Homo sapiens: one gene and its partners. The protein of the gene in region 1 purifies or fractionates together with the protein of each later gene. This does not show direct contact. Each region holds a gene or a part of one and is shown in the gene's direction. Other genes may lie near its edges.

Evidence for each region.
Region 2: the proteins of BZW1 (region 1) and ENPP1 purify together in Homo sapiens (affinity purification with mass spectrometry; 3 studies listed by BioGRID and IntAct, with this or other methods). This does not show direct contact.
Region 3: the proteins of BZW1 (region 1) and SCCPDH purify together in Homo sapiens (affinity purification with mass spectrometry; 3 studies listed by BioGRID and IntAct, with this or other methods). This does not show direct contact.
Region 4: the proteins of BZW1 (region 1) and TMEM43 purify together in Homo sapiens (affinity purification with mass spectrometry; 3 studies listed by BioGRID and IntAct, with this or other methods). This does not show direct contact.

What each region holds. Positions count from the first base shown.
Region 1 is NC_000002.12:200,806,782-200,815,159, forward strand, and holds the start of BZW1 (eIF5-mimic protein 2), read left to right. Parts: upstream 1-5,128; 5' UTR 5,129-5,209; exon of another isoform or gene 5,210-5,389; intron 5,390-5,403; exon of another isoform or gene 5,404-5,526; coding exon of another isoform or gene 5,527-5,528; intron 5,529-5,604; exon of another isoform or gene 5,605-5,626; coding exon of another isoform or gene 5,627-5,712; intron 5,713-6,426; coding exon of another isoform or gene 6,427-6,436; coding exon 6,437-6,500; intron 6,501-8,378. UniProt on the Homo sapiens protein: Translation initiation regulator which represses repeat-associated non-AUG (RAN) initiated translation probably by acting as a competitive inhibitor of eukaryotic translation initiation factor 5 (EIF5) function.
Region 2 is NC_000006.12:131,810,684-131,818,237, forward strand, and holds part of ENPP1 (ectonucleotide pyrophosphatase/phosphodiesterase family member 1), read left to right. Parts: intron 1-7,554. UniProt on the Homo sapiens protein: Nucleotide pyrophosphatase that generates diphosphate (PPi) and functions in bone mineralization and soft tissue calcification by regulating pyrophosphate levels.
Region 3 is NC_000001.11:246,720,091-246,727,922, forward strand, and holds the start of SCCPDH (saccharopine dehydrogenase-like oxidoreductase), read left to right. Parts: upstream 1-4,318; 5' UTR 4,319-4,332; coding exon 4,333-4,522; intron 4,523-6,801; coding exon 6,802-6,914; intron 6,915-7,832.
Region 4 is NC_000003.12:14,127,498-14,135,051, forward strand, and holds part of TMEM43 (transmembrane protein 43), read left to right. Parts: intron 1-1,914; coding exon 1,915-2,064; intron 2,065-3,324; coding exon 3,325-3,459; intron 3,460-4,082; coding exon 4,083-4,177; intron 4,178-5,048; coding exon 5,049-5,098; intron 5,099-5,365; coding exon of another isoform or gene 5,366-5,368; coding exon 5,369-5,438; intron 5,439-6,241; coding exon 6,242-6,312; intron 6,313-7,272; coding exon 7,273-7,394; intron 7,395-7,554. UniProt on the Homo sapiens protein: May have an important role in maintaining nuclear envelope structure by organizing protein complexes at the inner nuclear membrane. Required for retaining emerin at the inner nuclear membrane.

The sequences.
Region 1 (8,378 bases):
TACTGTGACCACTCTATTACTACTAATAGTAGTACATACCAAGTAATAGCAGTAGTACTACTAATAATAGCAATAAGGCAGTGATTAAGTTCTATTTAGTTTAGTTGCTTTTTCATCTTAAATAAAAACTTTCCATCAGCTGGGCGCGGCAGCTCACACCTGTAATCCCAGCACTTTGGGAGGCTGAGGCCGGCGGATCACTTGAAGTCAGGAGTTTGAGACCAGCCTGGCCAACATGGTGAAACCCCGTCTCTACTAAAAATACAAAAATTAGCCAGGGGTGGTGGCACGCACCTGTAATCCCAGCTACTCAGGAGGCTGAGGCAGGAGAATCGCTTGCACCCGGGAGGCGGAGGTTGCAGTGAGTGAAGATCGCACCACTGCACTCCAGCCTGGGCAACAGAGAGAGACTCCGTCTCAAAAAAAAAAAAAAAAAAATTCCATCGCACTGAGGCTCCCAAAAAATGAAATGTAGGTTTTAAAAAAGACATCAAAGAAAGATGGCCATCTAAATATGCCAAGGAAACCGTTATGCATTGGAGATAATTTTCCAACACAGAGATGTTTGGATCTGGCGTCCTTAGTAACATTTCTTTTTTTTTTTTTTTGAGACGGAGTCTCACTCTGTCGCCCAGACTGGAGTGCAGTGGCGGGATCTCGGCTCACTGCAAGCTCTGCCTCCCGGGTTCACACCATTCTCCTGCCTCAGCCTCCTGAGTAGCTGGGACTACAGGCGCCCGCCACCACGCCCGGTTAATTTGTATTTTTAGTAGAGACGGGGTTTCACCGTGTTAGCCAGGATGGTCTCGATCTCCTGACCTCGTGATCCGCCCGCCTCGGCCTCCCAAAGTGCTGGGATTACAGGCGTGAGCCACCACGTCCGGCCTCTTAGTAACATTTCTTAATCTTCAGTTCTGCAGTAATATTCTAGGAGATATGAACTATTAATAATAAGCAGTAAACAGTTTTTTCTAAACAATCCTATAGCTAACATACCACATGCCATTACACTGTTCTCTTGTTGGTTTTTATTTTGCTTCGTTTTAATGAATGTCTTGAATGCTATATAACTTAGAATGCACATATTTAAATCACCCCAAATATCACTTATTTGGCAACTCACTTCAAACTATATTCTGAACAAGCACTTTACAGGAGCAAAGAGTTTTCACCTTAACCTGTCATTATTCTGATGTTAAGAGGGGAGAGAGAGAAACAGAAAATGCATGTATGCCAAATTTCTTGAATCCCTAAGCTTCCCAATTATTTCGGCCTATTCAAAAATCGAGTCCAGGTGTGGTGGCTCACGCCTATAAATCCCAACATTTTGAGAGGCAGAGGTGGGAGGATTGCTAAAGCCCATGAGTTGGAGGTCATTCTGGGCAACATAACCAGATCCTGTCTCTATTAAAAAAAAAAAAAAAACTAAAATCTAAATAATAGAGTGTGTTTGCTAAAAGAGGGTATTTATTTAACAAATATTACTAAAATGTTAATGTAACTAAGCAATGCTTTTTATCTTGATTATGTCAAATATTATTAATAATTATAACTATTAAAATAATTCTATGAAGAAGTAAAAGAAATGGTATATATGAGATATGTAGCAAGTGAATGATATTTAACACATTTTTTACCTAAAATGAAATTATTTAAAAGCTCATTGTACCTCAAAGCTTTTTCACTGTAAAAATTTTGTGGAGCCTATGAAAATACTTCTGGCCACACATACATACATAAATATATGCATACATATATAGGTGTGTGTAACTAGAAGTATTTCATATACATATGCTACAATATTTAAGCCAGGTTCATAGGATGTTCTATAAGCTTCTACAAGACTCAAAGCATAGGAATAAATACTTCCCCCAGCTCATTTTCCAAGGGCAACAATGTGCTTTTCAAAACAGGCCCTTGATATTCTTCTAGTTGTTAGGAATAAAAACCTATTGTCACTTGCTTTTAAAAAAGAAACACTTAGGTATCCATTCCCATCAATGAAGTTAAAAGCAGTAGCACATTCACATGTTGCACTTAGCACCTTTCTTTTTAAGTAGTTCAAAATTTTTAAATCCAAAAGTACTAAGGGGGATTCACAGCAATGGCAGAGTGAAGAAATCAGCATATCCTTTTTCCCAAAACAACCATAAAACTGGGCAAGGCTAGGCGTGATGATTCACACCTATAATCTCAGCACTTTGGGAGGCTGAGGCGGGAGGCTCACCTAAGGCCAGGAGTTTGAGACCAGCCTGGGCCACAAAGCAAAACCCCATCATCACCAAAAAAAAAAAAAAAAAATTAGCAGACTCAGTGGCTCATGCCTGTAGCCCAATTACAAAGAAGGAATGTGTTCACATCCATGACTAAGAAAGGCTTATGGGAAAAAAGCAGTAGTTGAGATAAGGCTTGAAACAATAGTGGGATTTTGACAGTGGAAAATGAGGGAAGGACATCTCAAGAAAGGTCAAGACAAGATGTGTCCTGTCTGACCAAAGCATAGAGTTCAATTGTTTGGAACCTTTTCCTACCATAATACAATTCACAAACAACGTTTCCCCTGCTAGCTGCACGGTGCCTATTCCCATGGGTGCACCCAAAAGCAGAGAAAAGATAAGTGGCAAGGTGTGGTCTGTAATCCCAACACTTCAGGAGGCCAAGGTGGGAGGATTATTTGAGGCCAGGAGTTCAGGAAAACCTTTAATCCACTTTACATTTTAAAGAAAATAATCTGCTTACTTTAATATCATTTTTAGTCAAAAATCATTTGCTACATACCCCACAATGATGGTAATAACAGGTTAAGAACCACAAATGTGATGGGAAGTAAAGGTGAAAAACATTGGTCAGAGCTATCCCTGAGTATAAACAGAGGCATTTAAACAGTGAAGAGAAATGATTCAGCTTGCAGTTGAGAAGATTGCTCTGGAAATGTTGAGAAAGGGGATAGTACAGTTAGGAAGTTATTGCAAAAGTCCCATTTAGTTAGGGGTAATAGATGCCTAAATCAAGATGGTACTGGGGAAAGATGATACAATTTTAAAACGTGGCAAAAATAGAAGATAAGCTTTGTGAGGCCATAGGCGTAACATGTCACTATCTCTACTGGTCTCTAGCTGAATAAATATTTGTTGAATGAATAAATAAGATCTTGGTGGTAAGGCGGTGCATTATAATGGTGAAGCCAGACTGCTTGGGTTCAACTGGACCTCTTCCACTTACTAGCGCTATGATCTTAGACAAGTTACCTGACCTCGATGCCTCGGCTTTTCCATCTGTAAAATGGGACTAATAATAGTGTCTAGATTACAGGGTAGTTTTCAGGATGAAATGGGGTTACTACATAAAGTGCATAGAAGAGGGCCTGATACATATAGGGACATATTAGTTATCATTTTTATTTGTGAAACGTTGTCCTTTAACAGAACTTCAGATGTGAAAAATACAGTTCTGGGGGAAGAGCAATTGACAGCACTGACAGTGTTAAATTAGCCATGAAGTGAAGATGCCAGATAGTGTGGACTGGGGCCTTGGGAGAAAGGAAGGGGCTAGACACTTAGAGATCAGACTCCAGCCACTTCCCTCTGCTCCCCACAGCCCTCCCAATCACACTAGCTTCTTGCAGTTCCTCCAACAGATGCAGTTTGTTTCCTGCCTCCTTCCCACTGCTGTTGCCTCAACTTGGAAGGGCATAGAGCCTGGATTTAACAAATATTTGCTTAATGATTCAGTAGATGATCTTGGAACTCTTTTAAGTGGAGTAAATGTTAAATCCTTGAGAATGTATGAGACTGCCATAGAAGAAAGTATCCAGAAAGAAAAGGTATCAGTACAGAAAAGAAGAGTCAGAAAATACCGTGCAAAGGCACATTCAGAACGTAACCAGGATAGCTGGAGCCAGGATTCAAGGAGAGAGGTAGGTAACATTCAATGCTCAGAGGAGGCAAACAGGGTGAAGAATAAAACACTGGGTTTGGCAATAATTTCAGGAACGAACGCTGAGAAAGTCATTTTTCCATGAAGTTGCGGGGGGGTGGGGTAGAGGTCAGATAGTTAATTAGGGAAAAGAAGTCAACAAACTATTTTATCAAAAGGTTTAGGGAAGAGAAGCCACTCTCCTCCTACCAGAGAGTGAGGAAGCAACTGGAGAGAAGTAAACTACTGTACAGTGAATAAAAACATGGGGCTACATCCTAGAGGCGCTGTGCATCTTTATCTGCACAGAGTTTTGTCACGTCCACAGTGCTTTTCACACGCACTATCTAATCTGATCGTACCCCAGCTCCCTGATGATATAGCCTCTAACTGAGGGGTTCTCAAGGTGCGGACCAGCAGCAGCATCACAGATAACTTGTTGGAAATGCACATTCATGGGTTCCACACCAGGCCTACAGAATGAGAAACTACGGGTGGGGCCCAGCAGTCTGTTATAACAAGTCCTCCAAGGGATTCTGATGCTCTCCAAGTCCCCATAGCCACCACACTCGGGAGACAACCGCTGCAGCGCGCAGGGACCGCGGTTGGAGGACAGAATTTCCCCTTCTCAATCTTCGGCCTGTGTCCTCTTCGCTCTTAAGGGAGGTAGTGAACAATGAGACAGCCCCTCAGAGAAAAGTCGCCAGGCAGGGGACTCAGCTGGAGCGAACTCCGCCCATCCCGGCCAGGGCGGAGGCGAGGTGCGGATTCCTTCCCCAAACCACGCCCCCATGCCCGCCCCCAGCCTCCGCCCCCGCACGACCCGAGGGCCCCCCGCCCTCGGGCTTCGACTTCCGGTGCTGGAGGAGGGGGCCGGCGGCGAGGGACTCCAGGAGGACGCGTCCAACTTCGAGACCGGCGGGGGCCGGCTCCGCTCTTCCAACCCCTCCATGTGTGAAGAGGGCGGACGACGCAGCGGGGGAAGAAAAATAAGCTAGTCTAGGACAAGTGTCCAGGCGACGTGGAACCCAGTAAGGGAATAAAGAAGACTGGAAACGTCTCTCCCCTCCCCTATCCCAGTCCCTCACCCTAATCCGCGCGCAATAGAAAAGGCGGAAGCGCCTGTCCACGATCAGGGCGGGGCAAGGGGAAGAAATCTCGCGATAGGAGAGCGGTCCGGGCGGGGGTGGCACCTCTCCCTCCTCCTGGCGTTAGTTCCGGTCGCAGAGGAGACACCGCCGCAGTTGCCGGTACATCGGGGATTTCTGGCTCTTTCCTCTTCGCCTTAAATTCGGTGAGACGCGGCGCCCCGCTCACCCCGGGCGGACGCTGCGGGTCGTGGACGCCGGGCAGAGGGAGAGGGAGGCGGCGGGCTGGATGCGGCCCGGCTTGGATGGGCCCGAACGGAGGTCGCCTCTTGAGGCCGGGCCGGATCTAGGGCCTGAAAGGCCGCCGCTTCGGCAGGGAGGCCGAGGGGTAGCGGCGGCCCGGGTGGGGAGGTGGGGTCCGGGTGTGCGCCGCGGCGCTGGCTGCGAAGGCAGTGGCCGAGGCGGGCTCCCTCTGGGCCGTGCCCGGCCTGGCTAACAAAGCCGCCGCGGCCTCTGTTGTGTGATGTACGCGTGGGGGCTTCCGGCGGGCGGGGCGGAGGGGCTGCCACCCACCACCGCTGCGGCCGCCGCCTCCGCCGCTGCTTTCGCTGGAGGGCGGGCGGATGTACGGGGCGCCTGGGGCCCCGGCGCAAAGCGCCTCAGTGACTGTGGTCCGCTCGTTGCGGCGGCCGCCACCGCAGGCGACAGGGTCAGTGGAGAAAGAGCCGCGGGACCCTACGGCGCCCCGCTGTGGCCGATGGGGTCCTGGGCGGGAAGCGGGTGATCTGTGGCTCGGGCGGGAGGCATGGGAAGGGTGTGGATTGGGAGACACGTTACCGGGGAGGAGGCTAGGACTGTGGGATATGGGCGAAGGAGGCTGGGCTGGCTGTTAGTTTTGCAGGCCTGAGTGGTGCAAGGCGGCCGCTGTTGCGGTCACAGGCATGACCTAGGGTAGGATGGTGCTGCCCGTAACCAGGCTTGTCAGAAGAAGGGGTTCACCTTTTGACAGTGTTTTAGAATTGGCATACACATTTTGGATGCCTGCTGACTATGGTGATAATCTCTCTTTGCGTTCTGCGATGCTTAGTGGTCGTGGAAGATGTAAGTGAATGTAAAGAGGAATGTGGAGAAAACTGAACAATTAGGTTTATGACGGGTGATCACTGTAGCACTACAATGTCGCTTAAAAGTAGTTCACAGCACTAATTTGAAGGGTTTCTTGTAGAGAGAAATGCACATTTTGACGTACATTTGATTCAAGTGCAGGTAATTCTTTGTGCCTGTATCGGGTATAATTGCCAGCTTTATATCCTGAGAGTGGGTGTTCCATTTGATTCATATGTGACTAGACTAAGGTTTGATGTTTTGCTTTAAAAATTAGTATTATGGCACTGATATTAAGGCTTTATTTCTCCTTTCCTAGGGTGTCTTTTATGAATAATCAAAAGCAGCAAAAGCCAACGCTATCAGGCCAGCGTTTTAAAACTAGAAAAAGAGGTAAATATTTACGTTTTAATGTCTCTCTTCAAACCTCCAGAACATCTTGTGTATCTTGCCTTCTCTGACAGGTACTTGCATATTACTAAAGCCTCAAAAGAAGATACCAGAAAGAAACTTGAATTTCTCGTTGACTGCCATTTCACATACACCTTTAATATTTCTACTGCTTTACTGCTCAAGCCTTAATTTTTAGTATCAATATATCTCTAAGCCGGTTAGTGAATCTTCTTTTCGGTGTGAAGGTAAAATATTTTTAAAAATAAAAATAAGGGCTCTGTTTTCACTAGCAGGCAGTCTCATTTAAGCAAACTTAAATGAGCAAAAATGTTAATTTATAAAAGGAGAACTCCTAATGTAGTCACCCAGATTTTGTGAAGATTTGTGAGAGAAAACTCAGACTTCACCCATGGAAGTTAATTGTGGAACAGGATTCACATTGTAATGTCTTTTGAAATACAGACTTAGTAGAAAAAGTATTAGAATTATATTACTATTTTTTTTTTGCATTAGTGTGTACTTAGGTGAGTATTGAATTCTGTAGCAAAGTGCTGTGCTAGTGATATAAAGCTAAATAAGACGTAGTCTCAGATATATTTTTACTGTTTTTGGTCAAAAGCATATTAACCTTGTTTTACAGGTGGTTTTGAGGAAATGAAGAACTAGGTCAGCTACTGGTTATAAGTTGTGTTTTTCTTTTTCTTCCTTAAGTAGCAGACATTTTGAGATATATATTGTAGAATTTTAAAATCACTAATCATAGGCTGTCTGTCCCCTTGTAGTAGTGGTGGGGAGACCAAAGTGTGATTTGATTCTAATCTTTGCAGATTCATTTAGATTTAGCTGGTAAATTTTCTTAAGGAGCTGGAGTTGTAAACTAGAACAGTTTGGCAGTAAAATGGGAAAGTGTATCTCTTGAATATGTGGGTTACTGATGTTACCTTGATACAAATAATAGCAAGTAGCTTTAGCATTCTTATTATTAGCATCAGGGAGAGATGTAACTTCCCCGGTTCCAGATAGAGATGATTCGTGGCCTGGCTGTTGATGGTTAGGGTACTGGGTAGGGTATACAACACTCCCTGTCTGGGACTGAGGGAGTTTCCAGACACAAGACTTTCAGTGCTAAAACCAGGAAAGTGCTGGGCACTCAGAGGTGTTTGTCACCCTAGTACTGTGTGAACAGATGTCATCTAGCCTAGATTGGGAAAGCAAAACCCTATTATGAAGTGTGTGAAAGCAACTCAGTAAAGGTCAGGTATGTGCACAAGGCTGTGGTCTGGGAGCTTTCTATTTTATTAATGTCATTTGGTATTTACAACAACTTTATGGGATAGGTACTATTCTTATCCCCATTTTACAGTAGGGGAATTCTGGCATGGCGAGTGAGACTATTTGCTTGAATTCAGGTGGTTAAATGGTGGTCAGGATTTGAATCAGGCAGTTTAACTCCAGAGCCCATGTACTGAACTACTACACAATATAGTCTCTTGATTACCTAATTTCTCTGACTCTCAGTTTTCCTTCTGAATAATAGGGGGAAAAATCTGCCTCACAAGGTTGTTAACAGGATTAAAGCAAATGCTTAATATAGTTTCTGTCATTGGGTGCTCATTAAATGTACTTTCTAAAGCTCACCTTCATAAATGCCAAAGGATTGGTTCAATTTTTTTGTTTGTTTAATATTATGGACATTTAAGGAAAAGGATCAAGAGCTCCAGTGTCTGGACAAAACCCAAAGGAATAAAATGTACCTGTTAGAGGATGGCCTAAATTTTGGAAAAGCCAAGAGGCAGTAGGAGGGCGTTCCCAGTAGAAATTGGCTTATGGCAGTAGGAACACAAGACACTAGCACATTTAGATCACTTGTGAAATTAT
Region 2 (7,554 bases), on another chromosome or scaffold:
TCAGCTACACTGTTTTAATTTAGCAGGATAAATAGAAGAGTTGCGTTGCCTTGCCTTTCAGAGGCAATCATGTTGCAGTGGCAATGTAATTTTTACATTACTCTGCAGTTTTCTCAGATAAACTAAAATGATGTAGATGTGTGAGAGTGGATGAAGGAGTGAGGATTCTGTCCTACCCTGGCTTCTCCCCATTGTGGTGGTTGATCTTAGGAGAGGGCCACCAAGCTGTGCTTTAGAGGCTTTTGGCCCTGGGCCCTGGAATGCTTGTGCCTAGGTACTGAGCCAAACTGAGGAAAACAGCAAGAGGGAAAAACAAGTATTATTCTCTACATGTGTCAGTAGGTATGTTAAATATTAGATGCCTTTCCTTGGTTGTAAATGAAGTTTTGAACTGAAGTGTAGACTTCCACCGAGATGTGTTGACTTGGAGATGTATTTAAATATCCTTCTTGTTTCTTGGTGTGATTTTACAGTCATGTAATTCTCAACTACATTGCAATACATTTCTCCAGTTAGCTCCTCAAAAGCATTTTTTTTGTGTTGTTTGTGACCTTCTGCTATACTTATGAATACATATATCTGTGTATCTGTGTATGTGTAAAGGGCTTGCGTATGGGTGGTGGTCACTGAAGACTACTTTCATGTTTCAGTGAAAGAGTTCTTTAAAAAAACATATATCTATATCTATATCTATATATCTATATCTATATCTATATCTATATCTATATCTATATCTATATCTATATCTATATATATGTAGAGAGTCCGTTTGGCTCAAGTTTGAGGACTGCAACCCAGGAGCATAGATTCAAGTTGCCCTGAGTAGATGCTCCTATTAGCAGCAGTTACAAATGGGTTTTTAAAGGAAAAAGGAAGAGGCAGTTCCTAAGTTGTTTATCAAGCATTCATGTTACAATAACGAGCTATTGGTTGGCTATACATTGTTCTTTGTATCACACATTCCAGGAACATGAAGATAGTGGGTGAGGCAGCTGTCAGGAACAAAATGCTTTTAAAGAATTGCCCCTGGGAATGGGTGCAGTGATGTGACTGAAGTCCCATGCTCATGTCCCTCTGGGCCTGATAAATTTTGCATAGTTCGCATATCTCAGACTGCTCTGAGCAATTTTTCTTTCTCATTTCCTCCTTTTAATAAAAATCTTTCTCTTCTTAAAATACTGATGATCAACGTTTTGGATGTAAGTTTGTCCCACATTGCTGGGAAGGCTCATTTCCGGATAGTCTTGTCCCATGTCAGAGGGAATGAGATGGGCAGAAGTACTATCACTTAAAAACTTAGTGAGGTTCCAAGGCTGAATTGGTAGGCAACAATTCAGGGATTGGATTGAAAAATAAGGGGACAGAGCAGCGGGATTTCAGGTCATTCACTTACACTGGAGTTGAGGTATGTTGGGTCATTTCTAAGCATCTAGCTATTATGATGAGTTTTTTGTTATAGAATTTTGTGGTAGACTTTAGACATCTAGAAATACAAAGCATAATCAATTTAAGAATCAAAAGGATGACACAAATAAGGACAATTATCAACAAAACAACTTGAAATACAAATATGAAAAGTGTTCCTATTCCTGAAGGTAACCAAATGAATATTTTAATCCACTTCTTGTCCTGGTCTAAAGAACAAAGTGTTGAAGATCTCCACTGAGGAAGATGTCCACTTAGGCAGGGTAGCCTGATATTGGCCCTTCTAACGTGGCTAGGAGTCCTTTATTTGATGGTATTTTCTATTAAACAAAATCTTCCAGGTTGGAGACCATGATCTTTGATGTTTTTGTCTCCTAAGAGCTTGCTGTTAAAAGAATCCTTAATTAATTTAGAATTTTCAGTGAGAAACTTATAAGGCCTTGACAATAGTGAAGAGTATCACCTTGTTAATGGAAAAACCAAACTCTGTAAAATATTTTAAAGAGCTTTATCCTGAGCCAAGATGAGTGACTGTGGCTCGGGGAAACACTTTCTCAAGGAGTCCTGAGAATGTGCACCTGAGGCAGTTGGATTACTGTGTGTTTTTATATATTTCAGGGAGGCAGGAGTTACTGGCAAAGACATAAATCAGTACATGAAAGGTATACATTGATTCCATATGAAAAGGTGGGATATCTTAAAGCAAGGGCTTACAGGTTATTTATTCAGCATATTCAGAGATTTTTTTTTTGAGACAGTCTTGCTCTGTTGCCCAGGCTAGAGTGCAATAGCACAATCTCGGCCCACTGCAACCTCCCGCTCCTGGGTTCAAGCGATTCTTCTGTCTCAGCCTCCCAAGTAGCTGGGATTACAGGCACACACCACCACTCCTGGCTAATTTTTTTGTATTTTAGTAGAGACAGGGTTTCACTTTGTTGCCCAGGCTGGTCTTGAACTCCTGAGCTCAGGAATTTCACCCACCTCAGCCTCCCAAAGTGCTATGATTATAGGCGTGAGCCACTTTGCCCGGTGATTCGGAGATTCTTTAATTTGCAATTGATTAAAGGAGTAAGGCTCTGTCTAAAACTTGGAATCAACAGAAAGGGCTGTTGTGGCTGTGTGTGATGGCTCATGCCTGTAATCCCAGCACTTTGGGAGGCTGAGGCAGGTGGGATCATTTGAGGTCAGGAGTTCAAGACCAGAATGACCAACATGGTGAAACCCCTTCAAAAAAAGGGTGAAACCTCTTTTTTTGTAAAAATACAAAAAAAATTAGCAGGGCATGGTAGTACATGCCTGTAGTGCCAACCACTTGGGAGGCTGAGGCAGGAGAATCGCTTGAACCTGGGAGGCGGAGGTTGCAGTGAGCCGAGATTGCACCATTACACTCCAGCCTAGGTGACAGAGCAAGACTCTGTCTCAAAAAAAAAAAAGGGATGTTGTAAGTTAAGCATGATGCTATGTAGCAAAATTGATGGGTGTGCAGACATGACTTAACCCTCCCCTTGCATACCCTTAAGGTCTTGTTTATAACTTGGTGTCTTATTGCCACAGAGACGTTTTCGCGGTCTTATTTCTATTGTAACATTAATGCTGGTCAATTGTTACGCCTCAACTCCAAAAGGGAGGGAGTAGAATTAAGTGCGTTTGACCTCTCTTCCTATTTTGACTGAGAGCTCAGTTTTTGAGGTTTCTCTGGGGTTTCCTTGGCAGAGAGTGGGTCCACTCAGTTGGTCGAGGGCTTTGGATTTTATTTTTAGTTTACAACTTTTCAGGAGAGCTGGTTCGTAGTCTCCTTCATCCAGGTGCATGGATCTTTCCATTCTTATTTCAAAAGGAGAAAGCTGATGTTTTCCAAGCAGGGTAGAATGTAAGTTAAGCAAATGGAAGAGCCTTAGGCCAGGGAAGGTTAAAGCTTTCTGTAAGCTTTGCCAATTAACTTTTCATGATTCCATTTATTTATTCTTCCACTCTGGAAGACTGAGTGTGGTTTGCACAATGGAAATGCCGATCCATCCAATCTCAATGAGCTTCAACCACACAAGATAAGATTTCTGGCGGAGCATAGAGGCTAATGCCTGAAATCCCAGAACTTTGGGAGGCTGATGTGGGAGGATTGCTTGAGCTCAAGAGTTCACGACCTACCTGGGCAACAGAGTGAGACCTCATCTCCACAACATGTGGTAGGACTTCCAAAAATGGAGAATGCAATGAGTTCATGCTGGTACCAAGCACTGATTTTAGAGAAAAACACCAGGTGGTGGTGGGAAGTCACTGTGAATCCTGCTGACCTAAAGAAAAAAAAAACCAAGGCAAAATTAATGTAATTATAGAGCTTTATTTGGGCCAAGTTTGAGGAATACAACCCAGGAGCATAGATTCAAGTTGCCCTGAGTATATGCTGTGAAAGACTTCTTTATAAGAGGCAGAAGCTGGCATTATTTGAGATTTGGGTGTAAAAATTATAATTCAATTAGCTTCCTTTTCCTTCCCTTATGATCCATTATCTTAACTCTAGAATATGGAAGGAAGAATGTTCAAGCTAAGTCTCTGCTCTTAATCAGACTTGGAGTTGACATTGCTCCTTTGGTTTATAAAATTTGTTATCTGTCCAGCCATAGTTGAACATTTTAATTTCAGAATAACCAGAGCATCTTAAGAGGCCAGAGAAGTGTTCTCTGTGTCCCTTATGGTATTTGTTTCACATGTTCTAATAAAATACATAAAGGATTCCTAGGAACCCAAGACTGTTGTTTTTACTATTAGGCAGAGGATAGTACCTGACACTCAATGTCAGCTTTTAATTGCTTGAATGAATGTACTGCATTTTTTGTTAGACTGAGCCACACTTTGATTTGGAAAAGGGGAAGATGGGAAGACTAAATACACAAGCAGGGACCCATAGGGTCTGTGATGGTCAGGAATCCACATAGAGATGACACTTGGGTATAAATTCAGGGGTAAGATTAAAACTGGGATATAATTTTATTTGGGTATAGGGAGATGGAGGAGATAGTGAAGGAACAGAAGTACCCAACTAAGGTGAAGGTGCCTAAGAAGAAGGCAGACGGGGCCTCTGTGATAACGTGGATTCAGAATCAGAAATCTAGTCAGTGAACATTCTCTCAGGTACAGACACTCCAAGTGTGGCAGTCGGCATGTATGAAGGAGAGCCTCCTTCACTTACACCAAGGCCTCTTTGGTTTTGATAACTTTGCTGCCACACCCTGAATTCAGTCTTTGTGATTCTTCGCTCTTCTTCAGCATTGCTTTCTGTCCCTTCTTTTCTTCTGCCTTGAATCTTGTTCTGGTATTTCTTTTTCACCATTTGTAGCTCAGCTGTTTCCACTCCATGTTGTCTCTTTCTCAGGGATACGTAGCTACTGTTTCAAAAGCACTTTGCTAATTTCTATTTCACTTGTTTAGTTAACTTTGGACACTCAGTTTTGTCATCTCCTGCCCCCATCATATCCTAATCATGACTCTGAAGAAAATCCTTGGTGGTCACATTGAGAGACCTTATGTGTTCTGTATAATAAAGAACTGGGGGCCATTAACCTTTCTAGAGCATTTACAGAAATTTTTATCTATCAGCCTTTTTTTTTTTTTTGAAACGGAGTTTCACTTTGTAGTGCAGGCTGAAGTGCAGTGGAGTGAACTTGGCTCACTGCAACCTCTGTCTGCCTCCCGGGTTCAAGTGATTATCCTGCCTTAGCCTCCTGAGTAGCTGGGATTACAGGCGCACACCACCACACCTGGCTAATTTTTTTTTTTTTTTTTTTTTGTATTTTTAGTAGAGACAGGGTTTTGCCATGTTGGCCAGGCTGGTCTCGAACTCCTGACCTCAAGTGATCTGCCCGCCTCGGCCTCCCAAAGTGCTGGGATTACAGGCGTGAGCCACCACGCCCGGCTGTATCAGCTTTTCATCTTCATCCAGCTGACTCTTTTTATCTTAAGTAGCAATGTTAAAGGTAAATGAAAATAGTTTCATATTCAATTTTGCTCTCAAGTTTGATGACTACCATTGTAAAATATTTGTGTGACATTTAAGATACAGCAAATGTATTTCATCTATATTGTGGCCTTTTTGTACAAGCCAGAGAACTTTATCATGATTTATAACTTCTTTTTTTTTCTTACTATGGGGAGAGGCATTTAAGTTCCAGACAACTTAGGAACAAATAAGCATTTGGAATACAACTTGTAATTAGAGATCTGCTTTTGGTTAAAATAAGCATGCCTCCATCAACCATAAAATACCCCCCAAACAAGAAAAAATAAACAAGAAACCTTTTAGCAAATGAGCTCAGGGCCGAACATAGATTACTCTTCTAAGCATAAATCTTGTGCAACAAAACCTGATACTCAGAATTCTGACCCAGCTCGAAAATCCCTTGTCATCGGATAAAAACTAAGTTATGCATTTACCAAGGAAAGACAATGTAGGAACACATTTAAGGTTTTTCAAAAGAGTGACCAGAATGTTCAGTTAAATATTAACGGGAAGACTATTTTCTGAGTATTCTAGTTATCTGAGATTTAGTTGCAAGAATTAAGATATCTGTAGTGTCTTTGAAAAATTATTTTTACCTTTTTTTACTTTTAGTTTTTAGAAGAGGTGTTGGTAGAAGTGTAGGTGGTAGAAGTTTAGATGGTTATAATCATTTTTGTAGCACTTGGCAGCTTTAAAAAGCATTTCCCATATATTTTTGATTGATCCTCAATACTCAACAACTGTGAAATAGGAAAGTATGATGACAGTCAATTCTGCTTTACAGATAAGGAATCTGAGGCTCAGTCAGGGATTCAGTCAGGTTTCCATGCAGACATTATTGTGCATAAAAACCACCTGGGAAGTGTTAAAGACAGAGATTCCTAGGCTCCAATCTCAGTGATTATGATTTAATAGATTTGGAATGGACCCAAAGAATCCTCACTTTTTAACAAGCACCTCAAGTTATTCAGATGTAGGTGGTTGATTTACTCTACTTCTAGCAACAATGGGCTAAATTTATAGGCAAAAGCCACACCATTAGTACATAATAGACTATGATGGTAACTGGAAGGACTTTTATCTACAGATTTTTATCACGGACTAATAGCTAATGCCATCCCATTCATTTGCTAAATGTTATATCCTATTCATCAAGCTTGGCCTGCTGTTGGGTTTCCAACTCTCCTTTGCCTGCTTCAGTATAACAATGTGTAATTAGAACCTAAGAAATTTCTGGTGTGGTGATGCTAAAGCTTGCCTCTATATTGAGATATATATGTGTCTTTGGTAGTTCAGTGATGAGATTTTCCTGGGTGGAAGCCAAAATTAGTGCACTTTATTAGTGTGAAGTCAACAATCAGCTGTTTCTGGGAGCTTCCAAAGTAGGTATACTTTTGGGAAATTGTGCTTTTCTTCTTAGTTTGAGTTTCCTTCTTGGCTTATTTTGAAATGTAGTAGAATAGAAAAATAGAGAGTTTTGATAGAAAGTGATTTTGGGATGTGTGGTGGCTCATGCCTCTAAAGGAGACCGAGGCAGGAGAATCACTTGAGGCCATAATTTAAGATCAGCCTGGGCAATATAATGAAACCCCATGTCTATCTCTCTCTCTCTCTCAATCTCTCTCTGTCTCTCTTTCTTTCTCTCTCTCCATACACACACACACACACACACACACACACACACGTGTGTATGTACATATCTCCATATTTTATATATATGTATAATATGCATAAGAAAATCATTTTGGAGGAAGTAAATTGTCACAGCGAATTGTCACAAGTGTTTCTCATTTATGGATTGACCATTTTCTCACCGTATTTCAGGACTTTGCACAGACTTAGCTGGCAAACATCCTATAACAGGTGTGATTTGAGAGTCTTAAAAAAAAATCACTATCTTGGTTTTCAGGTGAATATTTTTGAGAAACTAGCTTGTTCCTAAAGATGTGTTTCCCGATCCCCCTCCTGCTTAGAAAGCTTTTTTTGACGTTAGCAAGCATCTGGGGGATCTTGATGCTCTCTTATGGTTAGAGAGAGAGAATTGAAAAGAAACTCAGTAGATTAAGACATTATTTGCCCTTTCACTGTGTTGACTTTTACACCGTGGTATTAAAGGAGTGATGGCACCTTAGCAG
Region 3 (7,832 bases), on another chromosome or scaffold:
TCACTTCCCCAGTCAATACCCTTGTGATTTCCTATGCCTGTCTTTACTTTAATCTCTTAATCCTGTCAGCTGAGGAGGATGTATGTCACCTCAGGACCCTGTAATAATTGCATTAACTGCACAAATTGTACAGCATGTGTGTTTGAGCAATATGAAATGTGGACACCTTGAAAAAACAACAGGATAACAGCAATTGTTCAGGGAATAAGAGAGATAACCTTAAATTCTGAGTGCCGGTGAGCCGGGCAGAACAGAGCCATATTTCTCTTCTTTCAAAAGCAAATGGGAGAAATAACACTGAATTCTTTTTCTCAGCAAGGAACATCCCTGGGAAAGAGAATACGCACCTGGAGGTATAGGCCTATAAACAGCCCCCCCCCAGGTGCACCTGTCTTTTATGGTTGAGACTGCAGGGGATGAAATAGACCCTAGTCTCCCATAGGGCTCCAAGGCTTATTAGGAAGAGGAAATTCCCGCCTAATAAATTTTGGTCAGACCAGTTGATCTCAAAACCCTGTCTCCTGATAAGATGTTATCAATGACAGTGGTGCCCGAAACTTCATTAGCAATTTTAATTTTGCCTCGGTCCTGTGGTCCTGTGATCTCGCCCTGCCTCCATTTGCCTTGTGATGTTCTATTACCTTGTAAAGTACTTGATGTCTGTGACCCACACCTATTCACACACTCCCTCCCCTTTTGAAAATCCCTAATAAAAACTTGCTTGTTTTTGCGGCTTGTGGGGCATCACAGAACCTACTGACATGTGATGTCTCCCCCAGACGCCTGGCTTTAAAATTTCTCTCTTTTGTACTCTGTCCCTTTATTTCTCAAGCTGGCCGACACTTAGGGAAAATAGAAAAGAACCTACGTGAATATCGGGGCAGGTTCCCCAATACTATTCACAATAGCAATTCTTGGAACCAAGCCAAATGTCCAACAATGTTAGACTGGATTAAGAAAATGTGGCATATATACACCATGGAATACTGTGCAGCCATAAAAAGATGATGAGTTCATGTGCTTTGTAGGGACACGGATGAAACTGGAAACCATCATTCTCAGCAAACTATCACAAGGACAAAAAACCAAACACCACGTGTTCTCACTCATAGGTGGGAATTGAACAATGAGAACACATGGACACAGGAAGGGGAACATCATACACCGGGGCCTGTTGTGGGGTGGGAGGAAGGGGGAGGGATAGCATTAGGAGATATACCTAATGTTAAATGATGAGTTAATGGGTGCAGCACACCAACATGGCACATGTATACATATGTAACTAACCTGCACGTTGTGCACATGTACCCTAAAACTTAAAGTATAATAAAAAAAAGATTTATCATGTATTCTTAACATTTTGTGTGCATATACATACATTGTTTTGTCTTAAATATACTCTTGTAATGTTAGGAAATTTGGAAGATTTTCCGTGTCACTATACACAGTTTTGTTTTGTTTTTTTTTTTTTAGAAACATAGCCTTGCTCTGTTGCCCAGGCTGCAGTGCAGTAGTGTGATCATGATTTACTGTAACCTCGAACTCCTGGGCTCAAGCAATCTTCCCACCTCAGCCTCCCAGGTAGCTAGGACTACAGATGCACATCACCACACCCAGCTAATTAAAAAAAAAAATTTTTTTTTTTTTTTTTTTTTTTTTTAAGAAATGGGGTCTTGCTACATTGCCTAGGCTGGTCTCAAACTTCTGGACTCAAGTGATCCTCCTGCCTTGGCTTCCCAAACTGCTGGGATTACAGGCGTGAGCCACTGTGCCCAGCCTACTTCATTCTTTTGTTTTTGTTGTTGTTGTGTGTTTTTTACCTAGAACCACCTGAATAGTCATTCTTCATTCTTTATAGCTGCACAGTTCCTATTGAATGAATAGGACACCATAATTTATTTAATAATTCCTCTGATAAAGGACATTTCAGTTATTTCTACTTTTTGTTATTACAAAGCAATGCTGCAATGACCATTATGTTAGTCCATTTTTGCGTTGCTTTAAAGGAATGCCTGAGGCTGGTTAATTTATAAAGAAAAAAGTTTATATTTTGGCTCATGGTTCTGCAGGAAGTACATCAAGTGTAGTGCCAGCATCTGCTTCTGGTGAGGCCTCAGGAAGCTTCCAATCGTGGCAGAAGGTGAAATGGAGCCAATGTATCACATGGTGAGAGAGAGACCAAGAGAGAGAAGGATGAGTGCTCTTTCAACTACCAGCTCTTGTATGAACTTATGCAGAGAGAACATACTCATTATCCTGGGGATGGCACCAAGCCATTCATGAGGGATCCACCCCCATGACCCAAACATCTCCCACCAGGCCCCACCTCCAATGCTGGGGATTACATTTCAACATGTGATTTGGGGGGGCCAAACATCCAAACCATAGCAAGCATGCTTCCCAAAAAACAAAATATATATATATATATATATATATATATATATATATATATATATATTCTGTTTTTTTAGGGTTTTTTGTTTTCTTTTGTTTTTATTTTCTTTTTAGAGACAATATCTCACTTTGTCACCCAGGCTGGAGTGTAGCTCACTATAACCTCCAACTCCTAGGTTCAAGCAATCCTCCTGCCTCAGCCTCCCAAGTAGCTGGGACTAAAAGTGCATGCCACTGTACCTGGCTCTGTAAGATTATTTTTTAGTGACTGTTTACTCCACTAGAATGTAAACTTCTTGAGGGCAGGGGCTTTATTTGTTGCCATATCCCCAGTACTTTATTCCTAGTGCCCAGTATATAGTTAAGTGTTTAATAAATACTTGAATGCTTACTACTTTACACCCACCAGATGGACAAGCATGAAGTCTGAGAATACCAAGTGCTGACAAGCACGTAAAGCAAGAGGATTCTTGTATCCCGCTGAGAGCGAAAATTAGTGCATGTGCTTTAAAGAGCAGTGAGATAACTCAAATATGGATATTCTAGCACCAACCATTTTCATTCCTGACACATATTCAATACACTTTCGCACAGGTGCTTTAGGAGAAAGGTACAAGAATTTTATTGTAGCATTCTTTGTATTATATTGCACAAAAGCACTATACAACATTGTACAAAAGCATTGTAGAATTTGGTGTATTTCTCTCTCTCTCCCTCTCTCCACACACGTATCACAGACATTTTTTTTTATTCTGAATCATTTGGGAATAAGTTCACGACATCATGACCAAATAAGAAAGCTGCAGGATTGACATTTACAAAATATTCAAAATATGCAAAACGGTACTATAATATTTATAAATACATACATATATAACAAGCAGAAAGATAGGAATAGGAATAATAAACACTAAATTCAGGCAAGTGGCCGTCTTGGGGACGCAAAAGGAAATGTGTTCAGGAATGAATACCTGGAAGCCTCGCTATCTGGAATATTTTTCTTAAGCTGTGTTGAGGGTACATATTTGTTATTGGCTGTACCTTTTTTGCAAGACATATATTTCAAAATTTTTAAAAGCATTCATTTATTCCTATTTTAATGAGAGTTTTTAAAAATCAGGAATGGGCTGGGTGCAGTGGCTCATGCGTGTAATCCCGACCCTTTGGGAGGCCGAGGTGGGTGGATCACCTGAGGTCAGGAGTTCGAGACCAGCCTGGCCAACAAGGTGAAAACCCATCTCTACTAAAAACACAAAAATTAGCAGGGCGTGGGGGCGCTCCCCTGTAATCCCAGCTACTCGGGAGGCTGAGGCAGAATCGCTTGAACCCAGGAGGCGAAGGTTGCAGTAAATCGAGATCGCGCCACTGCGCTGCAGCCTGGGCGACAGAGTGAGACTCCATCTCAAAAACAGAAAAGAGAAAAGAAAGGGAAAAAAGGGAAGAAAGAAAGGAAGAAAGCAAGCAAGCTCAAGGGTTCTCGGGGTGGGCCATCCCCGAGGCCATCCGCAGATTTTCTCGCACTCTTTGCTCCACCCCCACGTGCAACAAGGACAACCGGCTGCCGCCTCCAGCTTCCAGCAGGGCTAGAAGATGCGCTGCCCGGGGCGGCCAGAGCCCTGCAGAACAAACCGCCGCACGGAATTAGGGGCCGCCGTCCGCGCCTGCCAGGCTTGGAAGCGGACTCGCCCCCAGGGCCACCGCCCTAGGAAACCTCCCGTCGGAAGCCTCCCAAGCAAGCCGCTCACCCGCGGCTCCCGCGCGAGGCGGCGTGGGCGTGGGCGCGGCCCTGGCGCGGCGGCGCGCGCGGGGTGAAGGGAGCCCGGCGCGCTGGCTGCGGCGACGGCGGCCGTTGCTGCGCCGGGTACTGGGGTCGCTGCCTGAGGCGCAGGCGCCGTGGACTCCACCCGCCCCGGGGCCTGGGCTCGCTGTGGACTCGTCATGGCGACCGAGCAGAGGCCTTTCCACCTGGTGGTGTTCGGCGCGTCTGGCTTCACCGGCCAGTTCGTGACCGAGGAGGTGGCCCGGGAGCAGGTGGACCCGGAGCGGAGCTCCCGCCTGCCCTGGGCCGTGGCGGGCCGCTCCCGGGAGAAGCTGCAGCGGGTGCTGGAGAAGGCGGCCCTGAAGCTGGGTACAGCGGCGGGGCGGGACGGGGCTGCGCGGGCGGCTGGGCCGGGGACCCCGCATCGCCCCAAACGAGCGTTTCTCCCGCAGGGATGCGCCCTACGTGTCCCCGAGCCCTGCGTGAGGACAAGAAGAGGAGAGGGAGAGATGTTTCAAATACTGCCATAGCTTTGTCCCACCTCCTTAACTATATGTGTGTGTGCGCGTGCGTGTATAATATACACACACATTTTTTTTTCTTTCCTTCTCCTCTTTCCCGCTTTTTGCATTTCTGCCTCAGTTTGGGGAGCTCCCCTGGCGAAATGGTCAAGAACTTGAGTTGTCCCTCTCTCTGCTTCATCCTGCCCCGCAGCGGGGGCACCTGTTGAATCTGCGGGTTTCTAGATGTTTGGTCGGAGAGGAGAGGAGGGCTTTGGTCTCTTGGAGATCGGAGTCTCCCTTTGCCTCGTGTTTTGAGGACGGGAGAGCAAGCTTACGAGTTGTACTGACAGTGTCTTTGTGGCTATTCTGTTTTAGTTTCTTGTTTTGTGTGTAAGAATACTCCAGCAGTCTTCCTCTTCAGAGAATAAAAAGTGTGTATTTCTGGTTTAGACGCTTACGTATTCTCTAAGCATTCAGGTAGCATGTATTTATTGATAATCTAAGCATTCAGGTAGCATATATTTATTGATAATCTAAGCATTCAGGTAGCATATATTTATTGATTCTCTAAGCATTGAAGGAGCATATATTTATTGAGTGACGTTGTCCATGCTAAGACCTGTCCCGAGTCTGGGGTGCAGGATGGGACAGAGAGGAGACAGACACACGGATCCTGCTGCCTTCATGGCTGGGGAGACATCTGACTTACGACTCCGTAGCCTTTAAATTTGGCTATTAACTCCCGTAGATTTCCCTTATACAGACACCCATTAGAGTTCTGGAAATACTACATTCTTTCTGTTTAATCTACTTTCATACAATGCCCTGCTCGGAGTGCTTTTGTTCGTGGTTATGTACAGAAGACACCACGTAGGCTGGACTCTCCTACAGCTTTTGGTGCTGACACTACCAACACGTAATTCTGACCAAAGAGCTTTTTGGTCGTTATTTTTCCAACAGAAGTAATTTTACTATGAAAATATATGCTTCCATTTCTTTTTTCGGCTCAGCAAGATCGTACCGGTACAGCCTAGTCACTTATCATATATAATGCCCAAATCAAGTTTCATTGTGGGGGGATATACCTTCACCTATTGAAACCTGCATCACTTAGTTGAGCCAGTTAATTCCAATTATTTTCTTATGAGCCTGTGTGTGTTTATATAGCGTGTGCTTTTCACCTCAGAGTTCTAATTTTTTGTTTTTTGTTTGTTTGTTTGCCATTCTCCTGCCTCAGCCTCCTGAGTAGCTGGGACTAGAGGCGCCCGCCACCACGCCCTGCTAATTTTTTTAGTAGAGACGGGGTTTCACCGTGTTAGTGAGGATGGTCTCGATCTGCTGACCTCGTGATCCACCCTTCTCGGCTTTCCAAAGTGCTGGGATTACAGGCGTGAGCCACTGCACCCAGCCCTGATGGTTTTGATGTTAACAGTCAGTCCGAAACTCTCCATCACCTACAATTGGATCATAGTAATTGTTTAGTGGTTGATGAGAAACTTTATTTTTTTAAAGACAAGTTCTCATTCTGCCACCCAGGCTGGAGTACAGTGGCGTGATCACAGCTCACTGCAGCCTTGACCTCTGTGTCTAAGTGATTCTACCGCCTCAGCCTCCTGAGTAGCTGGTACTACAGGCTATGCCACCATGTCAGATAATTTTTTTTTTTTTTTTAGTAGAGACAAGGTCTTGCTATGTTGCCCAAGCTGGTCTGGAACTCCTGAGGTCAAGAGATCCTTGCACCTTGACCTTCCAAAGTGCTGAGCCACTGCCCCTGGCCAAGAAACTATTTTATGACATAAATTTCTTGTTGGAGAGGAAGTCTGGATAGTTATCTGCTCAGCATTTAAACTTGATTGTGAAATTGTCATGTTACACAGGGTTGTTATTTACACAACGCTTTGATTCGATTTTTTTTAAAAGGTCAGTTTTTTAGTAACTCTTAGTGTTAACTCAGTTTTCCTCATAATTTTTTCCTTTTGTATTACCTGATTAAAAACAGTTTTATCTTTTGTCTAAGCAGGAGAGCTAGCTTTCAGCATATCAGTGTATTTAGTAATTTGCTGTCACTGATTACTGTAAAAAGAAGATAAGGAAGATATAATCCTCTACTGGGATTTACTTTCCTTCATTTGTTTCTTATTTTAGGAAGACCAACACTGTCATCTGAAGTTGGAATCATCATCTGTGATATTGCTAATCCAGCCTCGCTTGATGAAATGGCTAAACAGGCAACAGTTGTCCTCAATTGCGTAGGACCAGTAAGTAATCAACCCTTCTTTGTATCAGAACAAACAATCCATTCATTTCTAGCAAAATATTCCAGAGGAACATAAGGACAGAGGACAGAATTGTTGGTTGAAGGCCTTAACCCCATATGGGGAGTTTTTTCTTCTTGCGAGGAGCAGCTGGAGATGACCAAAGTCTCCTGAGAGAGTGAGTGACAGGCTCTCCATGACGTTCTCCTTAGGGCATGTGTGCTGGCTTGTTGATTGGTTACATCTGTGATTGTCAGAATTTTCTTTCCTTTTTACTATATACCCCTTCGGTAAAAAATGTTTGAGTGTGTCTCCCTAGTATATTTTTTATTTATAAATTATATTCTTGTACTACTGGGTAAATATATTTTTTAAATGCACAAAAAGAAGACTAAAAAACGACTCATTTATTGAATAAATATTTATTGATGCTTACCACATGTGAAATGCACTATTGTAGGCACCTGGGACACAATGGTGAACAAAACAGAAAATCCCTCGTGGACATTACGTTCTTGGGGAAGACAGAAAAATAGGATTGTAATAGGAGGTAATGAAAAGTGCTTTGAAGAAAAGTGAAGCCAAGAAAGGAGAAAAGGTCCTGGCATATTGGTGTTTTTAGATGGATGGTCAGGGAAGGTTTCTGTGAGGAATTGACATTTGAGCCAAGATCTGAATGAAATGAGAGCAAATTGCATGAACCTTTTGAGGAGAGACTTTTCCAGGGACAGCAGGCACAAAGGTCCTGAGATGCCAGTGTGCTTGGCAAGACTGAAGAGTGTGACAGAGGCCAGTGTGGCTGGGCATGGCAGAGAGGTGGAGAGTGGATCAGAGAGCAACCCGGGAGCTGGGTCATGTGGGATCTTACGGGCCATGGCCAGGATGTGGATTTTTTTTCCAGGTGTGACCAAGAGGCGTTGA
Region 4 (7,554 bases), on another chromosome or scaffold:
AGAGTAGCCTCCAGTCTGCCCGGATTTGAATCCTAACTCTTCCTCTTAGAAGCTGTGTGATCTGGGAAGATGACGTAACCCTGAGCCCGATTTTCTTATCGGTGAAATGGGGTCGTTATGACATCCCGCTCTTTGGGCTTGCCTGTGGGCTGGCCTGTGATAGACCCGGTGTGTTTGCCATTGTCATCATTGTGATGGTCACCTGCCCCTATGTGGTGATTCACTCACCTAATGTTTCCAAATGGCATGGAAAGTCAAGACGACTTCTGGATTCATGGACATCTGGTCACTGGAGGCCTTGGCTGGTGGTACTCAAAGACAATCAGAATGCGACATCAGCTTTGTTCAAGCAGAGATTCTGAGTCAAATCACTCCTCTGGCCCCCAATACCAGGATGGGGCCTGTCTTAGCTGGGCCCCACTTTACATCTTTGTGACTTTTGTCAGCTCACCCCCAGCCTGGTGCCAGCCCAGTATCAGTTGTAGGGAAATCTGGTAACATTTCTACTAGCTAACACGTGTCCAGTGCTTACCACGCCCTAGGCCCTGAGCTACCCAATAACTGTGTTCTTTGGTTCTCACCACAACCCTATGCACAGAGGAAATGGAAGGCACAAAGTGGTGAAGTTGCTTGCCCAAGACCCCGTAGCTGGTATGTGGCAGAGCATAAATGCAAACCCAGTTCTTCTGGCTCCAGAATCCTGCCCTAGACGATGACACTTTTGATCAGCAGTGGATGCACCCCAAATCATGCCTCTGTTATTGACCAAAGCCTGATCCACTCACCCTTGAGTTTGAGGCCCACTGTGAACCTGCCCAGAAATGCCTACCTCCAAGCCCTTTCTTCCTCCACTGCTCCCACCCAGCCAAAGCAGACAGGCAGCTGCTCCCCCAGAACCACTTCCTACTTCCTCATCACTGCTGATACGGTTCTCCCTTTAGGGATGCTCTTCCCCTAAGATCTGCCTCTAAGATTCCACTCAAGGGAGCCTCCTTGATACCCCAGGTGGAAGGGGTCACTCCTTGAGCACCAAGTCCACCCCCATCACAGGACCCTCTGTGTGACCTTCTAGTATTGTTTATGGTTGTGACCTCACTGCCCTAAGACTGTCTACTTCTGACCCCACAAGGGCTAGCACTGCCCTCAGAAAGCTCAGCCACTGTTTGCTGAATTTAATTAAAAATACATCTCTAATAACCTCTTTGTAAAATAGCTTGGCAGTTTCATAAAAAGTTAAACGTACATCTTCTTCACGAGCCAGCAGTTGTACTCCTAGGTATATTCCTACGGGAAATGAAAGCACATGTCTGCATAAAGGTTCATGTATGAATATTCACAGCAGCATTATTCATAACAGCCAAAACCTGGAAGCTGTCAAGATACCCATCCACTGACGAATGATTCAGCACACTGTGGTATAGTCATAAATGGAATACTACTCAGCCATGAAAAGGAACAAATTCCTGATAAACACCACAACATGAATGAATTGCAAAAGCAGTGCTCTGAGTCCAAGAAGCTGGGCAGAAAGGAGTTGGTGCCCTGATTCCATTTTTCTCAAGTTGTAGAAGAAACAAACTAATCTACGGTAGGAGAAATTCAAATTCAGATTCTCCCCATCCCCACCAGTTACCTCTGGTTGGTGGAGAGGGGGAGAATTGGCAGGAAAGGGGCACAAAGAAACTTTTTGGGGTGATGGAAATATTTTGTACCTTGCTTTAGATGTTGGTCAGATGGAATATACGTTTGTGGAAACCTGCCAAACTGTACATTGAATATCTGTGTGTTTTTACCACATACAGTTAAAACTAAAAAAAAAAAAAAAAAAAAAAAAAAATTGAGTATAAATAAATAGCAAATTTAATTTATTTTTAAAAACTAGTTTTCATTCTGTTACTGTTTCTTTTTCTTCAGTATTCCAGTACCAGTACCCGGAGAGAACATGTCAAAGTTAAAACCAGCTCCCAGCCAGGCTTCCTGGAACGGCTGAGCGAGACCTCGGGTGGGATGTTTGTGGGGCTCATGGCCTTCCTGCTCTCCTTCTACCTAATTTTCACCAATGAGGTAAAATGTCTGGGGTCTTCCTGTGCAGAGTGAGAGTCCCCACCATGTCAGAGAGCAAAGGCGATGAACCCGGAGGCTGGATTTGGTAATCAAGGGCCTAGATTTTAAAAAGAGAAAGGAGGATACTGAGTTAATCACAGTTCTTTCCATTGTGATCCATCCCACAGCTGATGTGAGCAGGAAGGGGAGTAGATCAGTTCACACACCTGAATATCCAGGGGTTAGCACCTGCCTCAGGCGTAGTTGGATCCAGGTGTTCATGCTGGGTCACCAGGAATCTCCATTTCTTCATCTTTTGCCTGTTTTTCTCTATTATGGTGTTTTTCTTGGGCAGGCACTTCATCTGTGATGGCAAATGTGGCCCCAGCAACTGGCCTACATCCAACCACTTAGCCCAGGGAAGAGAAAAACCATCTGTTTCTCTTCCTTTCTTTCTTTTCCTTTCTTTCCCCTCCCTCCCTCCCTCCCTTCCTTTGTTCCTTTCTTCCTTCCTTCCTTTGTCTCTCTCTTTCTCTCTTTCTTGTTTGTTTGTTTCTTTCTTTCTCTCCCTCTCTCTTTCTTTTTCTCCTTTTTTTTAATAGGGCCTCATGATGCAACAGTATATTTCTAAATCAATTTAGCAGCAGTTACAGGGCCATCTCTCAGTGTCCTGGCTTGGCTCTCCGTCCTCTGAATCAGTCTCCGTGTCCAGGGCGCACTCACATGTTCTGACTGGCAAGGTCTGGGTCCCATAATCTGACCAGGGTTCAGATAGACTCAGGTAAACCACATGGGCTGAGTAGGAGAGAGGAGAGCCAGGCATGGAGGCTCAAGCCTGTAACCCCAGCACTTTGGGAGGCCAAGGAGGCAGGATCGCTTGAGGTCAGAAGTTCGAAAGCAGCCTGGGCAACATAGCAAGACCCCATTTCTACAAAAAACTTAAACATAAAAATAAAATTAAAAAAAAGAAGGCAGAGAAAAATGGGGAGAAAGGGACAGGCAGGCAGAAACATCAGCTGTTCCCACCACTGGGGCAGTGCTAAGATTGGTGGGGGCTAGTGGGAACCAATGGGGCAGTAGGAAGAAGTCTCCCTGGGAAAGCAGGAATCTGGGTTCCAGTCCTTACTCTCCACTTGCTAGACCTCAGTTTTCCAACTGTACGGTGGGGAGATGGGTCTCAGCGCTCCCGGAGGCCCCATCCTACCCTAATACTTTGCAACAAGCACAGTCATGCTGAGCCACCCCTGAGCTGTTGAAATCCCCACTCCCCTTTGCTCCCAGGGCCGCGCATTGAAGACGGCAACCTCATTGGCTGAGGGGCTCTCGCTTGTGGTGTCTCCCGACAGCATCCACAGTGTGGCTCCGGAGAATGAAGGAAGGCTGGTGCACATCATTGGCGCCTTACGGACATCCAAGGTAGGTTTGGCAGGGGATGCTGACCTGCCAGTGGCTCGGGGCTCATCCTGGATGTTGTCTGGCTGAGGATTTGAAAGCATGGGCCTTGGAGATGGTCACACATGGGAGTGATTCCCGACTTTACCACTCAGCAGCTGTGTGGACTTGTCTATCCTGAGTCTCAGTGTCTTCGTGTATAAAATGGGGACGGTAATGGTTACAAGCTTGTGGCCAGCCTTGAGGATTTGGTGAGATTAGGTAACTAACGCCTTGGTACAGTGGCTGGCACTCAGGGAGGTGCTCTCATGACTCTGATGACCATGTGTGTCCAGTGCAAGGCCACAAAACTACCCTGGGCACCAGAGCTTTCCTGTTATTTGAACACCCTGTACGCTGTTGGCACCATGCCATTGGGCCATGCAGCCCAGGCCTGTACTGTGAGGGTCACAGTCACAGGCACTGTGTGTAAAGAACCTGGGACAGGGAGTGTCCTCGATTCTCCCCTGCAAAGCAGTGTAGGGCTCTCCACCCTTGTCCCCTTCTCTATTTCTTCCTCTTCCAGTCCAGCTTCCCCTGAGCCAGGCTTTCTGGGCTGACGTGAATGTTATCCTTTATTTTTTTGGTTTCTTTGATTCTGTTTGAAGCTTTTGTCTGATCCAAACTATGGGGTCCATCTTCCGGCTGTGAAACTGCGGAGGCACGTGGAGATGTACCAATGGGTAGAAACTGAGGAGTCCAGGTGAGCTGTTGGGGTGAAAACTCTGTTGGGGTAAAGGAGGAGTGAAGTGTAGGTGTCAGGATAACATGCAGATGTCTTTCATTTTGATACCTTTGAAACTCAAGTATAACATCTTCCTATCAGAAAAGTGTGAAATGATCCCCAAATTAATAGCCAGTGATTTGGAAGTGGCAAAAATCCAGTGAAGAGTGGCTCCAGGAGGAAAGGGGGATTGAGTTGCTCCCACATCTGGGAAGTTCCAGAGATGCACAAGCTTGAAGCATGACTTGGAGCAGGCCTGAAACACTGTCATTAGGATCAGCATGTCAACCCCGAGACCCCACTGCATCTCTCTGTGTTCAGCCTTCCCATCAGCTGTGTTGGTCCCATCTTTGCTCTACTTACAGCTTATCGTTTCTGACAGGAGTCCCAGGGCAGGTTCTCATTGATCAGGGCTGGGGTCACCTGGAGCTGGGGGTGGGTTCAGCCCCACCTGAATCATATGGACTGTGACCGACAGGTGGGGAGGTGGTGGGAGGAGCAGGAGAAGGGCAGCTTCAAGAGGCCCCCCGCAGGGCTGTCCTGGAGCAGAGGATGCAGCCAGATCTCTGAGCCCAAAGGGCAGGGCTGGGCCCCTTGGTGTAAGGCCAGTGCGGGCAGATTTCAGCTCAGGATGGGAGAGCGCTTTCCTCCAGGTAGCGCCTTGGAGGGCAGGAGCTGGCTGTCTGTCAGGAGTGAGTGCCCTGTCTTGGGGCTGGTGTAGAGAAGGCATCTGCCGTATCTGGGGAGTCTGATCTGGTAGCCCTGAGGTTGCTTCCTGCTCAGATGCTTAGAGATTAGACTGCCTGGGGCGACGAGGCTAACCCCCGTGGCTGCTTTGCTTTCCCTGCAGGGAGTACACCGAGGATGGGCAGGTGAAGAAGGAGACGAGGTATTCCTACAGTGAGTGCTGGGCCCCTTACGTGGTCTCTGCCCATGGTGGGGGCCCACAGTGGTGGCTGGACAGCAGGGCTGTTGGTGGGGCCATGGGAAGGATTCAGCACCAGGCATCAGGATCCCTGGGTGCAAGTCTTCAGAGCCCTGCTTTCCCACCCATCCATTGAGGCTCCCTGACCCACCCCTTTGGCTGTGAGATAGGAGGAGCTGGGCTGGTGGGTCTCAGCCGCGTGCCACTCCTACCCGGGCTCTGAGTTGATTCCTCTCCCTGAGCAGACACTGAATGGAGGTCAGAAATCATCAACAGCAAAAACTTCGACCGAGAGATTGGCCACAAAAACCCCAGGTGAGAGCCAGGCCCAAGGCCTGAGTGCAGCTTTGTCTACACTGGCAGGTCTCCAGCCTCAGTTTCTTCATCTGAATAACAGGATTGAGTTAATCCTGCCTCGTGGGTTGAAAATGTGGGACATGGGTTTGAGACCAAGCCCTGTGCTGGGCACCAGGAACACAGAGACTTGTCTCCCCTGACCCCAGACAAGCTCCCCGCAAACAAGTCACAAATATAAGGCCTGCACTAAGCGTCTAAGGGGATTTGCACACACGGGGCCGGGGAAGCATTTTGTTAATGGTTTGCCATGGGTGGGAGGACAATCAGGACAGGCTTTCCAGAGGCAGCGGCATTTGTTCAGGCTTCTCAGGATTTCAGCAGAGGGAGGTTAGCTCCACGGCATGCCAGTGGTGAGGCGGGCATAACACTTGGGTGTGGCTAGAGAGCAGGCCTTGTTCAGCAATGGTCTGGGCTGTGCCAGTAAGATGGTTGGGATGGAATGCTCTGGGAGGGGCTAGTGAGGGGTGTAAAGTCCATGCAAGATACATCTGACAGCAGTGGGTGGGGCAGGACAGGCTGGCAGGGGTCTAGGCAAGAGGGTAGGAAGCTCCGGGGAACAGGAGACAGAGTGAGGGTGCTCAGCCCAGGGGAGGGGGCACAGGGCCCCTGGGGGTGGACAGGACAAGATGTCTGCTGCGCCTGGGCTAATCTGGACTTGCAGGAACCCCCGGGTGGGGACCCTGCCCAGCACAAACAACCCAAAGGGACCCGGGCAGCTCCCACACCGGTGCCCATCTCTGACAGCTTCCTCTCTCCCACAGTGCCATGGCAGTGGAGTCATTCATGGCAACAGCCCCCTTTGTCCAAATTGGCAGGTTTTTCCTCTCGTCAGGTAAGTCTCAGGCCTCTCCAGAGGAGCTCGTGCCAGAAGCACAAGGCCCCCCTAGGGCCGGAGCTCCCAGTACTCAGCCTTCAGAGGGCTAAAGGCACAGGATCAGTCTGCACCTTTCCCAGCACCATGCTTTGGGGGCCAGGGGAAGGCGAATCCCCAGGAAGCAAGGGCTGACGTAGAAACCCCCACCCCACTCCATCCTACCAGGTTCCTCTGAAATCTGGGTTGTTCCAGAGAATGACTCAGGCATGCATCCTCACCCTGCTGCGTGCCGGTGTCTGCTGAGTAGACTCTGCTGAGACAGTCCTTCCTCAAGCAGACTCCGGCTAGTAGTAGACATGTGGTGGCTCAGTGCTCTCAGCCTAGGGCTCCCCCTCTCTGAGTTCCACCTGTCCCAGGAAGGCACTAGCTTATCACAGGCATCCCCCATTGACTCCAAAGAGAAGCTTGCAAGGGATAAGGTGGCACCATGGGCCAGAGTAACCCTGGGGCTCTGTTCCTGGGCCTGACCCATGAAGGTGGGAGAGGATACCAAGGGCCCAGATAGTCCTGGGGAGGCTGGATGATCCTGGGCCTGGCCTGGCCGCTTTCTGTGTGCTTTGTTGCTGGATGGTGCCTGTGTGCCAGCTGGGCCTGCCCTCAAGTAGCTCTCAACCCAGGAGGTGAGTCAGGCTTGGACGTGGATGGCCGTAACCTTGATGGAAGGGAAAAGGGCTAAGGCCACTCCCAGTGCTGTGGTCACTCTGACTTGGTGGGAGAGGGCACAGGGAAAGCTTCCTGGAGGAGATGGTCTAACCCAGGGGAAGCCGTGGACGAGACAGAGTCAGAAAGAGGCACTGCAGGTGGGAGTGCCACGTGTGCAGGCTCCAGGGGTGCAGTGGAAGGGGGTCAGGCCAGGGACTTTGCAGATTGAGGTTTTCACCTGGTCCCCTGGGTTTCTAACCACTCTGGTCCCCTCAGGCCTCATCGACAAAGTCGACAACTTCAAGTCCCTGAGCCTATCCAAGCTGGAGGACCCTCATGTGGACATCATTCGCCGTGGAGACTTTTTCTACCACAGCGAAAATCCCAAGTATCCAGAGGTGTGCGGAGAGGCCTGGGCTCTCCAAATAGGAGGGTCAGGGCGCTAGGATCAGGTTCCTGCGCCAGGCAGATTCAGTTCAGTCGCATGCACAGCTGCACTTGGCCAAGTGCAGCTGAGTGGGAGAGGCCCTCTGGGTGACGGCACAGCCTGGGCACGGG